Linked DNA regions of Homo sapiens. The main gene of each other region encodes a partner of the protein of the gene in region 2 in a complex. Each region holds a gene or a part of one and is shown on either strand. Other genes may lie near its edges.

The links.
Region 1: MED8 (region 2) and MED12 share a complex: the UniProt entries of both Homo sapiens proteins name them as parts of the mediator complex.
Region 3: MED8 (region 2) and MED1 share a complex: the UniProt entries of both Homo sapiens proteins name them as parts of the mediator complex.

Annotation. Positions count from the first base shown.
Region 1 is NC_000023.11:71,128,488-71,132,236, reverse strand, and holds part of MED12 (mediator of RNA polymerase II transcription subunit 12), read right to left. Parts: intron 3,640-3,749; coding exon 3,519-3,639; intron 3,124-3,518; coding exon 3,022-3,123; intron 2,922-3,021; coding exon 2,808-2,921; intron 2,558-2,807; coding exon 2,382-2,557; intron 2,203-2,381; coding exon 2,023-2,202; intron 688-2,022; coding exon 616-687; intron 165-615; coding exon 31-164; intron 1-30. UniProt on the Homo sapiens protein: Component of the Mediator complex, a coactivator involved in the regulated transcription of nearly all RNA polymerase II-dependent genes.
Region 2 is NC_000001.11:43,383,360-43,386,892, reverse strand, and holds the end of MED8 (mediator of RNA polymerase II transcription subunit 8), read left to right. Parts: coding exon 1-35; intron 36-222; coding exon 223-304; intron 305-666; coding exon 667-915; intron 916-1,166; exon of another isoform or gene 1,167-1,609; intron 1,610-1,751; exon of another isoform or gene 1,752-1,786; coding exon 1,787-1,851; 3' UTR 1,852-2,340; coding exon of another isoform or gene 2,341-2,443; 3' UTR 2,444-2,976; downstream 2,977-3,533. UniProt on the Homo sapiens protein: Component of the Mediator complex, a coactivator involved in the regulated transcription of nearly all RNA polymerase II-dependent genes.
Region 3 is NC_000017.11:39,449,755-39,453,503, forward strand, and holds the start of MED1 (mediator of RNA polymerase II transcription subunit 1), read right to left. Parts: upstream 1,510-3,749; 5' UTR 1,309-1,509; coding exon 1,284-1,308; intron 1-1,283. UniProt on the Homo sapiens protein: Component of the Mediator complex, a coactivator involved in the regulated transcription of nearly all RNA polymerase II-dependent genes.

The DNA.
Region 1 (3,749 bases), on a different chromosome or scaffold from region 2:
GGGATGGGTCCTAACATGTTTCTATCCGACCTGAGCACAGGCTTGGTCTTGCTGCTGCTGGGCATGTTGCTTGCAGTACTTCCAGAAGATGACCCTGTCTCTGCTGACTGTTGGAAAACCTCGATTGTGGCCTTGGCGATGTTCTCCAAGAGGGAGTTCATCTCCTGGGGAGGATGAAAGGCACAGAAGTGCTAAAATAGGTAGCTAAGGGTGAAGGAAAGCAGATGGTAGGAGAGATCGGAGATGACGGAGAAGGACAACACTGGCGGAGATTGATGGGGAGATAGGAACGCAACTCTGTTGGGAATCATGCCCTCTAGTACCTCCATATTTCTCCAATTCCTCACTGTCTTCTCCTTTACATACCTCCTTACATCTATGGCCAGAGAAACAGGCTCCACCACCACCACCAAGCTTCCCCACAGCTCAGAGCTCCAACACTCTCAACCCATTTCCCTTATCATCAGCTCCACTTGTTCACCATTTTCCCATCCCCTCTTATCTCTCAGCTCAAGAGCCCAAGGGTAGGATCTAGGTTCTTCTGTGGTGGACCGCCTCCCTGACACATGGAGCTGAACGTGAGCACAGGAAAGGGAGGGTCCAGGCACTACTCACATTGTTAGGGGTCTGCTTGATCATGAGCTGCAGCTCCAAGGAAGACTGGCGCATGGTCCACTGGTCCAAGTTCTGTGATAGAGGCCCCACACCCAGGCTAGTCATCATCGTGTTACCCCCAGCTACCCAACAATCTGAGGCCAATTCCTGATCTCCTGCAACATTGAATCACAGACTCCTGGAGGTCTGAAAGGGACCTCTATGTCCCCATCTTTAAGAAAGACTACATTTAGGGAGGCTGAGACAGGCGGATCACCTGAGGTCAGGAGTTCAAGACCAGCCTGGCCAACATGGCAAAACCCCATCTCTACTAAAAATACAAAAATTAGCTGGGCGTGGTGATGGGCGACCTGTAATCCCAGTTACTCAGGAGGCTGAGGCAGGAGAATTGTTTGAACTTGGGAGGCAGAGGTTGCAGTGAGCCGAGATCGCACCACTGTACTCCAGCCTGAGCGACAAGAGCGAGACTCCGTCTCAAAAAAAAAAAAAAAAAAAAGACTACATTTAAATAGTCCAAACTAGTTGAAAATCTTTCCAATTTTTAAAATAGTTCAGGAAAGATTTCACATCTTTCCCATCCCTTCGTATCAGGAAGTTCTGCTTAATGCTTAACCTTGAAACCCTTGATGTTAAAGTTGAAGCCTGCTTCTCTTGTTTTAGACCAGCTGCTCAAAGTCCCTGACAGAACCTTTATAAGACAATCTCTCAAAGTCCTGTAGAGACCAGAAGGCTACTGTTAGCTAATCTCTCTTCAACACTATCTCTTCTGGGCTGAAGAGACCTTATTCCTTTAGCTTTTCCTCAACGGCTTTATTTTTCCACTCTCTGGTCATCTGAAGGTGTGAAGCAATGTGAAGAGGAAAGTGCACAGACATGTCTGGGTTCACATATTGACTCTAAACTTATGGGCTATGTGACGTTAGACAAGTTACTTAACCTCTTCAAGCCTCAGTTTCCTCATCGGTCAAACAGGGAGGCTCACCTACTTCATAGGGTCATAAAGATTAAATGAGGAAATGTGTGCAGAGTGCCTAGCACAGTACCTGGCACAAAGCACATGCTCAGCAAGTAGTAGCTATTACTATTCAGTTCCTGAGCCATGGCCAAAATGCCAAATATACACGGCCCACACCTAGGCCTCCCAGATGCTATGCTTCCCATTGATAAGCTAGATTCACTCCAGATAGCTATGCCCTCACCTAATACTCTTACACTGGAGTCTAGACCCTACTGGACTTACTCCTCAGCCCATGCTGGAGCTGTTTCTCTCGCTACCTCTCCCCTCCCCTATATCCTTGTTTGTCTTCCTCTCTACTTAACTGCCCCTCTCCTTTTCTCAAGGTTCCTATTGTTTCTCCCCAGATTGGGCCCACTGCTTCCTCCACAGCCCCCACGGCCTTGGCCTACCTGGAGAATGCGCTTTATGCGCTGCCGCTGGGGGTTTTCCCCATCCTCATTGTCCAGCAGTCGATGTGGATAGCAAATGAGCTGCATGAGGCGCTGCGCCTGGGCACTACTCAACACTGGGTCTTGCAGGTCATTGCTGTCCTCACACAGAGACTTAAGGCAACGTTCTCCTACCCATTCCTGAGGAAGCTGACAATCAGGGACTGGGAACAACCAGTGAGGGGGTTAGGAATATGGGGGATGGGCTGGAGTTGTTAAGGAACACAATGTATAGTAGGGAGCTGGTGTGATCATGGGCTGGAAACAGAACTATATTACACAGAGGCATTTAGGAGGTGTGGGAGGAAGGTGAAACTGACCTGTTGGCAGATGCTGCGCAGCACGTACTTGGCATAGACATCCAGACTGGCTGTCTCCACAGAGATGTTGCGGCCACCCTGCCTCCGACCACCACTGCCACCTCCTCCCTCCTCCTCTGGAAGTTCTTCTGTTCCTCCTGTCACAGTGAAGCCTGAACCTTTCAGTTCCGCATCCCCTGTGGTTCACGGGTGGGAGATAGGGAGGGCAGAGTGAGATTGGAACACGTGTGGAGACCCACCCTGGGCCCACAGAGGTAGAAACACCCCAAATCCTGCCCTATGGGACAGAAATATACTTCTCTCCCTCCCCTCCTCCCCAAAGGTCAGAGAGACCACCTTCAGAAGGGAGAAAGACTGTCCCTTGTAGTTTAGCTGGCACTCCACCCTATACACACTTCTGGCACCACTCCCTTCCTACCCCCGTACCAAGTACAAACACAGCCTTGAGAACAGCAAACACGGCTCCATCCACGATGCGGTTCTGGGAGGCAGCCAGCAGGTGGCGGTCGCAGGAGGAGCGGATTCCTACTGTAGGCTTGTCTGGGGAAGGCGATGAAGTCAGGGGAAGCAAAAGTAGAATCCACGGAGGCAGGGGAACCACACTTTCTACTGTTGGCTGGTTCAGATCAGGGTCACTTACTTCCATCAGACTGGCAAGGATTGAGCTGCGGTGTCTTGAAAAGGTGAAGGAGGATGCGGCAGGTAAGCCGGGCCCCTGGCTCAGAGTCCTGTTCACTACAAGCTAAAAGGAAGACAAAACAGATCTGGAAGGGATGAAGTTAAACTGTATGTGGGTTTATGTGTGTGCGTGCCTGCATGCATGCAAGTGTATGGCAGGGGCATGGGAGAGAAGATGAGGTAAAGTGAAAGGAGAAAAAGCAAGATAATATTGAAAGCGAGGTAGAGCAGAGAACTGTTACGCAGTTGAAGGGTCAGAAATTGGAAAGGTCAGGGCTGCAAATCCAGGGCTAAAAAACAGGTTTCTTCTAGCCTTCAGCATACCAAAGGACTGGCCTTCTGAGGAAGGCCAGGGAGCCGCAGCAAGGTCTCCCACAGTGAACAATGAGAGGATGGCCGTCCAGTGTGTATTGAAATTTGAGGTCTAGAAATGCTAGGGGTTACAGATTGGTAGTTCACCAGCATTAAGGAGTGAAGGGATGGCAGCACAGCGAATCAGATCTTCCAGGAGCAAACACTGCCGAGCGATGAGGATGGCAACAAAAGTAGCCAGCGAGTCATGAAAAGATAGGTCACTGACCTGGAGGAAAAAACAGACAGACACCATGACTCAGTGTGGAGGCCCACTCAAAGCGGTGTGCCTCCACTCTACGGAACTCTGTCCCTGGTCAGAGGATCACAACCAGCCCC
Region 2 (3,533 bases):
CAGATGCTGCCCGCATTGGTGCAGATGCAGCCCAGGTTGGACTGAGTCACTGCCTTGCTGCCCCATCCCCATCCCATCATGAGAAGCTAGGCATTACCATTCCTGTCTAGTAGGGATACATAGTTGGTTGCGCCTAAGTTGCTTCTGGCAGAACCCAAGGAATAAATTTCTCCATATCGTTTCCTAGTTACCCTAATCTCTGCACAAATTTGTGTGTTACAGAAGCAGATCCAGAGCTTGAATAAAATGTGTTCAAACCTTCTGGAGAAAATCAGCAAAGAGGAGCGAGAATCAGAGAGTGGAGGTATGATGGGACTGGTGGCTAAACAGAGAAGGAGAGGTATATAAGATCACTGGAATGGGAATGGTTGTTTTGGAAGTAGTGAAGTTAGGACACAAGGGTGAACTGCTTTGGGGTTTGTATCCATTCTGTTAGCCTTTTGTATTTAAGGCCAGCACTGAAGCAGTGGAGGAAATGGGCAAAGTAAGAAGAGAGAATTCTGAGATAGGCTTGGGGGTCCTCTGGCTCTTTTTCTGGGCTGTGAGGGAGTCTAGATGTTGCTGAATTCAGAACTCCAAACCCTGGCACTCATACTGGTCTTCCAGCTGCCACGTTCAGTCCTGCATCAGAAGCATACTTCAGGATCCCCATTACTTTTTCTTCAGGTCTCCGGCCGAACAAGCAGACCTTTAACCCTACAGACACTAATGCCTTGGTGGCAGCTGTTGCCTTTGGGAAAGGACTATCTAATTGGAGACCTTCAGGCAGCAGTGGTCCTGGCCAGGCAGGCCAGCCAGGAGCTGGGACGATCCTTGCAGGAACCTCAGGATTACAGCAGGTGCAGATGGCAGGAGCTCCAAGCCAGCAGCAGCCAATGCTCAGTGGGGTACAAATGGCTCAGGCAGGTCAACCAGGTAAGGTGGCAGGGGTTGAAATGAAGCTGACTTTGAGCAGGAGTGGGAGGGAATAAGCTAGATTATCTGGGCCTCCAGCATCTCTAGACCTAGAGGTTTTCTCTATTTCTCCTTTTCACTGTGACCCAGGAAATAATTTTCAGAAGTAAAAAAATCTCATCTGAGACTCTGCAACAGGCACCAGAGAGTGAGGAAGAACTTTGAGTAACAGAAACTGCTCCAATTTCTCATCCGCATCTCACATCTCTGTGTCAACTATCCTTCTATCCCATTTATTCTGGTATTAGATATGTTGTCAGTGTCTCTTGTTAGGTAGAGAAATCAGCAGTCAGATCTTAAGACCATTTGGTAGGTGCATCAGGAATTGACACGCAGGCCAGTTTTCCAGTCCTACATGTATTCTTTTCTCTGTATCCTGCCTCTCTTGCTCTTGGCTTCCTGCCTTCTCTCCTACTCATTTTTAGAACAGTCTAGATGCAGGCAGCTAGAAGAGTTATTTCCTCCAAGCTGTCTAGGAAAAGGGACAATTAAAGAGAGATTCTGCACTTATTATGATATAAAAAAAGAAAAACAATGAGAGAACATAGTACTCTTTTACCTGTGACGTTAAATGGGAGTCACACAGGTTTAGCTATCTGTTCTAGGAGTGGATGAACAGACTATTCTCCCATGTCACTTCTTTCCTCCTGGACACCTTCAGGGAGACAGCTGGGTGAAGAATCATACTTCTGACCTCTGTCAAACAGGGTCAGATGCCGCAGAGGTTCTGAGATGATAAAGGAAGTGACAGAGGGAACCTGAGGTACCACATTTCTGATTTGTCATGAAAGTCTTACCTTGCTTAAGATGACTTTTTTAATGTTCCTTTCAGGGAAAATGCCAAGTGGAATAAAAACCAACATCAAGTCGGCTTCCATGCATCCCTACCAGCGGTGAGTGTGGCTGGCAACCTCGACTCCCTGGTGCTCTTTGCAGAGTTGGGCAGTGAAATTACCTTTTGCTCAAGGCTCACCTAGATGGGTACAATAAAAAGAACATGGGCTTTCAGCAGCAGACAAATCCCACTTCCACCACTGACTAGCTGTGTGACCTTGGACAAGTGACCTAATTTTTCTGAGCCTGTTTCTCATTTGTAAATGGTGATAATACCTACCTCATAGGGTTGTTGTGAGGATTAAAATGAGGAAATGAATGTAAAGCACTTAGTACAGTATATGAAATAATGGGTATTCAATAAATGATAGTTTCTACAGATCCTTCTCCCCACCACCCTCCACAGTCCTTGATCCAGAACTTACCCTAATCTGATACTGCCTCACGTCAATGGTGAGCTGATGGACACAAGATCAAATAAGGCTATGCTTATTTTGTGCTGCCAGAAACTGTAGCAACCTCTGTGTTCTTAGAGGCACACTGTTTTTGCAGGCCCTCCTGCCTGGGTTTCATTCTGGCTATCCCTCTAAGGCGCAAGGTGAAGAAGCTTCTGGGCCAGGAAGGAAAAAAAAATGCCCACCTGCAGCTCTGGTGAAGCTTGGGCCTGCTCTCCTTTCCATCCTCTAAGGAGCCAACTTGGCTTTTACCTGTCAAATAGTCATAAAGTCCCCTATCCTTTACCCCACCTTATACACACGAGGCTTTCTCAGGAAGTGGCTCTGCCAGGCAGGACTATGTGGGAAAGGGTTTTTCCTTAGCACACGAAAAAGCCCCTTCCCCTGGATTCATGTTTCTTATTTTGGAGGGAGAAGGGAATTGCACTTCACACTGCCATCAGGGTTTAGTTGACCTCATAATGGTGCCCACTTTCTCGACTTTGGCCAGGATTTCCTTCAAAGAAAACGACTTTCCTTCATTTCCCTAAGCCTGTGGCCCAAATGGTGGACCAGAATGATGGTGGGAGGGGGCAACCCCCAGTAGCTTTGCCTGCTTTTATAAAGTTGAACAAATTGAATTTAGACATTCAGGCTAACCTGCCTTTCTTAGTACTCCTTTGTTGGCATGGGCAGGGGTTGAGTCAGCAGAAGTGGACCAAAGGATTCCTCTGAATAAAGTTATTTAAATTGATGTTCACTGGCTCAGGGTTGTCTGACAGTAATTTATGAGAGCACTACATAGGGATCAGAGGGGCAGTTTCAAGAGTGCTGCAAGGCAGTTCTAATTTGTTCTCCATAAAAAAGTTTCCGTATCTTTAATTAGCTTTGATCTAAAAATCCTGAAACTTCCCTCCTGCTCATACCTTCCAGCTGCCTTTTTTCTGTTCTGTCACACACTGGTACTTTGGCATTTGTTCAGTGCCAAACAAAGTTCTGCCAGGCTGTGGCAGCAAAGGACTGGAAAAGTGGTCCCAGATGTCACATCTGTTACCATTCCATCAAGGTGAGGAATGGTATCCACAAAGCTCACTGACCACAATACATAGCAGTAGGGGAGTCTGGTCACCAGCTCTAAGGCAATGCCAGACCTTTCCCCCACTTAAACTGTTCCGGCTCATCAGCCCACTCAGGTGTTATCTTCTCACCTCTTCCCTTCCCACTGGAAATGTCAGTATTAACTGGCATATTGGGTAGAGTTTGAGCTGTGCTTCTCTGAAATTCCTGGAGCATCTTTTGGTGACTATTGTC
Region 3 (3,749 bases), on a different chromosome or scaffold from region 2:
CCACCTCAGCCTCCCAAAGTGCTGGGATTACAGGAGTGAGCCACCACACCCGGCCTTTTTTTTTTTTTTTTTTTTTTGAGACGAAGTTTCGCTCTTGTAGCCCAGGTAGGAATGCAATGGCGCAGTCTTGGCTCACCACAACCTCCACCTCCTGGGTTGAAGCAATCCTCCCACCTCAGCCTCCCAGGTAGCTGGGATTACAGGCATTCACCACCACGCCCGGCTAATTTTGTATTTCTAGTAGAGACGGGTTTTCTCCATGTTGGTCAGGCTGGTCTCGATCTCCCAACCTCAGGTGATCCACCCGCCTCAACCTCCCAAAGTGCTGGGATTACACGCGTGAGCCACAGTGCCCGGCAATTTTTTTATTTTTTTTGTAGAGACAGGGCCTCAGTATGTTGCCCAGGCTGGTCGCGAACTCCTGGGCTCCAGGGATCCTCCAGCCGCAGCCTCCCAAAGCGCTGGGATTACAGGTGTGAGTCACTGCTCCCGGCCTCACCTTTCGACCTCTGCTCCAAAACACACTCTTTGTTTTTCTTGAGAAACCTGCTGATAAATATCTGTACTTCGATGCTCCAACACTTTTTGAGCGACTATTACGTGCCAGAAACTATACAAAAATAATCAGGCAAGGACTCTAATCTGCAAAGCTCAGAGGAAACTGGAGAAGATAAACAATAACACAGTTCACTGTATCAACAGAACTATGCCCAAAATGCTAAGGCAGCATCTTAGCCGGAGTGTGGAACTTTAGAAAATCTTAGTAAAGTTCCACAGAAAAGTTGTTTTTCTGCAGTTCGTAGTTCGGTCAATAAAAGAACGAAATTCAGCGCACTTTAAAAATACACAATGGCACAGGATCTGAACACTTGACATTGTAGAGAACTGCTGGCTGCTAATAAATATAAGGACCTAATCATTTCATTGATGCCAAAATAGTCTCCAGTACGTTTACACACAGCCCTAAATTTATTCAGGCGTCTCTTCTGGAACGAGATGTAAGCTGATTTTGTATTCATTTGCCCCGTCTCCCACCACTTTAGGCCAAAAGTGCCCTAGTCGAGCATGAAATCTTCACAGAAGTTGAGAGTCCCCATCGCCCTAAAGTCGAAGCTCTATAATCACCAAGGAGGGTATAGTGACAATCTAAAACTAATACACATTCCCTCTCCTGGACTCTATGCCCCTAAAGTGGCCCCCATGGGACATCTGCAAGAACCTCCTCTCACAAACTGGCTCCCCCAGTTGTGTCCCGCCCCCTCCTTTCCCCTACAGTCACTTACCCTCGGTTTCCCCCTGAGCTTTCATCCTGAAGGCGAGGAGAAGCTAGATCCGCCACAAAAGGATAAGCCCTTCCCCACCACTAACGGAGGAAACAAGTTGGCTCGGGATCCCGGGACGCAGGGCACCAGCAGTCCCTACTCTTCCCGGGAAGGATCAATCTGAAGTCCCCGGCGGCAAGAAGAGAAGGGTGCTCGAGGCCGCCGCCATCTTCCCCAACGGAACTTCCCAAAATTCGCGAGATAAACCGTGGTCCTGCCAGAGAGAGGAAGAGGACAGGGCATCGAAATCTCGCGAATATTGGTCAATGCGTCGGCCTCGCGAGATTTCTTTCAGCGCAGTCTTCCCTTTGATCTGAGCTGTCTCAGGCCTCGCGCCGCTGGATATTAAACCTGCCGGCCGGTAGCTTTCGGCTCCCCTGCGGAAACCGCCATTTTTTTTTTATTTTAGCAGTTAAACAGCTCGCAAATTAAAATCTCCAGATCCCTGTACTGAAAGACTAGCTTTTCTTTTTTTTTTAATTTTTTTTTTTTTTTTTTTGAGATGGAGTCTTGCTCTTGTCGCCCAGGCTGGAGTGCAATGGCACGATGTCGGCTCACTGCAACCTCCGCCTCCCGGGTTCAAGCGATTCTCCTGCCTCAGCCTCCCGAGTAGCTGGGATTACAGGCACCCGCCACCACGCCCAGCTATTTTTAGTAGAGACGGGGTTTCGCCGTGTTGGCCAGGCTGGTCTCGAACTCCTGACCTCGCTGTCCGCCCGCCTCGGCCTCCCAAAGTGCTGGGATTACAGGCATGAGCCACCACACCCGGCCATGACTAGATTTTCAAAGGCTATTGGTATCAGGAGTGTCTTATGAAAGATAAGTTTAACCTGAGATACTAGATGCAATAATTACATCCTAAGAAAGATAGTGGCGCATTGTAACATGACGTTCAAAGCGAGCCTATAGCACAGTTAATTCCCCTTTTCTCATTTTTTTAGTTTCAAAACTATTTCTGGCTAGGCGCAGTGGCTCATGCCTGTAATCCCAGCACTTTGGGAGGCCAAGGTAGGTGGATCATCAGGTCAGGAGTTTGAGACCAGCCTGGCTAACATGGTAAAACTCCGTCTCTACGAAAAATACAAAAATTAGCCAGGTGTGGTGGTGCGCTCCTGTAATCCCAGCTACTCGGGAGGCTGAAGCAGGAGAATCTCTGGAACCCGTGAAGCGAAAGTTGCAGTGAGCAGAGATCGCGTCACTGCACTCCAACCTGGGTGACAGAGTGAGACTGTCTCAAAAAGAAAAAACTGTATCCTTTACTATCCTCAAACTAAGTGTTCTTCACTTAGTAAGCATCTGTGGAGTCCTAATATGTGTATATTTGGAGCTGCTAATACAAACATGAAAACACGGCTGGTCGCGGAGCTACTCAGGAGGCTGAAGCAGGAGAAGCGCTTGAACCTGGGAGGCAGAGGTTGCAGTGAGCCGAGATCATGCTACTGCACTCCAGCCTGGGTGGCAGAGCAAGACTCTGTCTCAGACAAATAAACAAACATGAAAACACAACCCTAGCGCTTGATAGGCTAATCTTATTTAGAGTTCCGAAAATATGATTGGTCACTATAATCATAGGGGCTCAAAATTTTTTCATTAATTATTATGCCCTAAGTACCAATGCCAGATACCCAACTACACTTTATCATGGAAACTCTATACAAATAAAAAAAAAAGTCTGTACTAAGTGTTGCTAGGAAATTTTTAACTTTATAAAGCTTATAAATAAACTTTACTAACTTCTGGTTACAGAATGGAATGAGAAGTTATCATTTGTCATCTGAAAATGCAGATGAGAGACACCATTGGAAAAGTTCTACTCTAGAAGATAAGAGAGCAATGTCCTTTGGGAGGCTGAGGCAGGTACTTGAGATCAGGAGGTCGAGACCAGCCTGGCCAAAATGGTGAAACCCCATTTCTACTAAAAATACAAAAAATTAGCCGGGTGTGGTGACACATGCCTGTAATCCCAGCTACTGGGGAGGCTGAGGCAGGAGAATCGCTTCAATCCGGGAAGTGGAGGTTGCAGTGAGCCAAGATCGTGTCATCGCACTCCAGTCTGGGCAATAAGAGCAAGACGGAGTCTGAAAAAAAAAAAGAAAGCCATGTCATTAAACAAGAAAAGTATTCAAGGTACATATAGGAACAGTATACATAGGAAAATGGGTACAATGGGCAAATTGTAAGTGACTAAGCTTTGAAGGAGGCGCCAAAGGACTCTTTTTTTTTTTTTTTTTTTTTTTTTTTTTTTGAGACAGTGTCTCGCTCTGTCGCCAAGGCTGGAGTGCAGTGGCACAATCTCGGCTCACTGCAACCCCCGCCTCCTGGGTTCAAGCAATTCTTCTGCCTCAGCCTCCCAAGTAGCTGGGACTACAGGTGTATGCCACACCACCCAGCTAATTTTTTTGTATTTTAGTAGAGACAGAGTTTCAC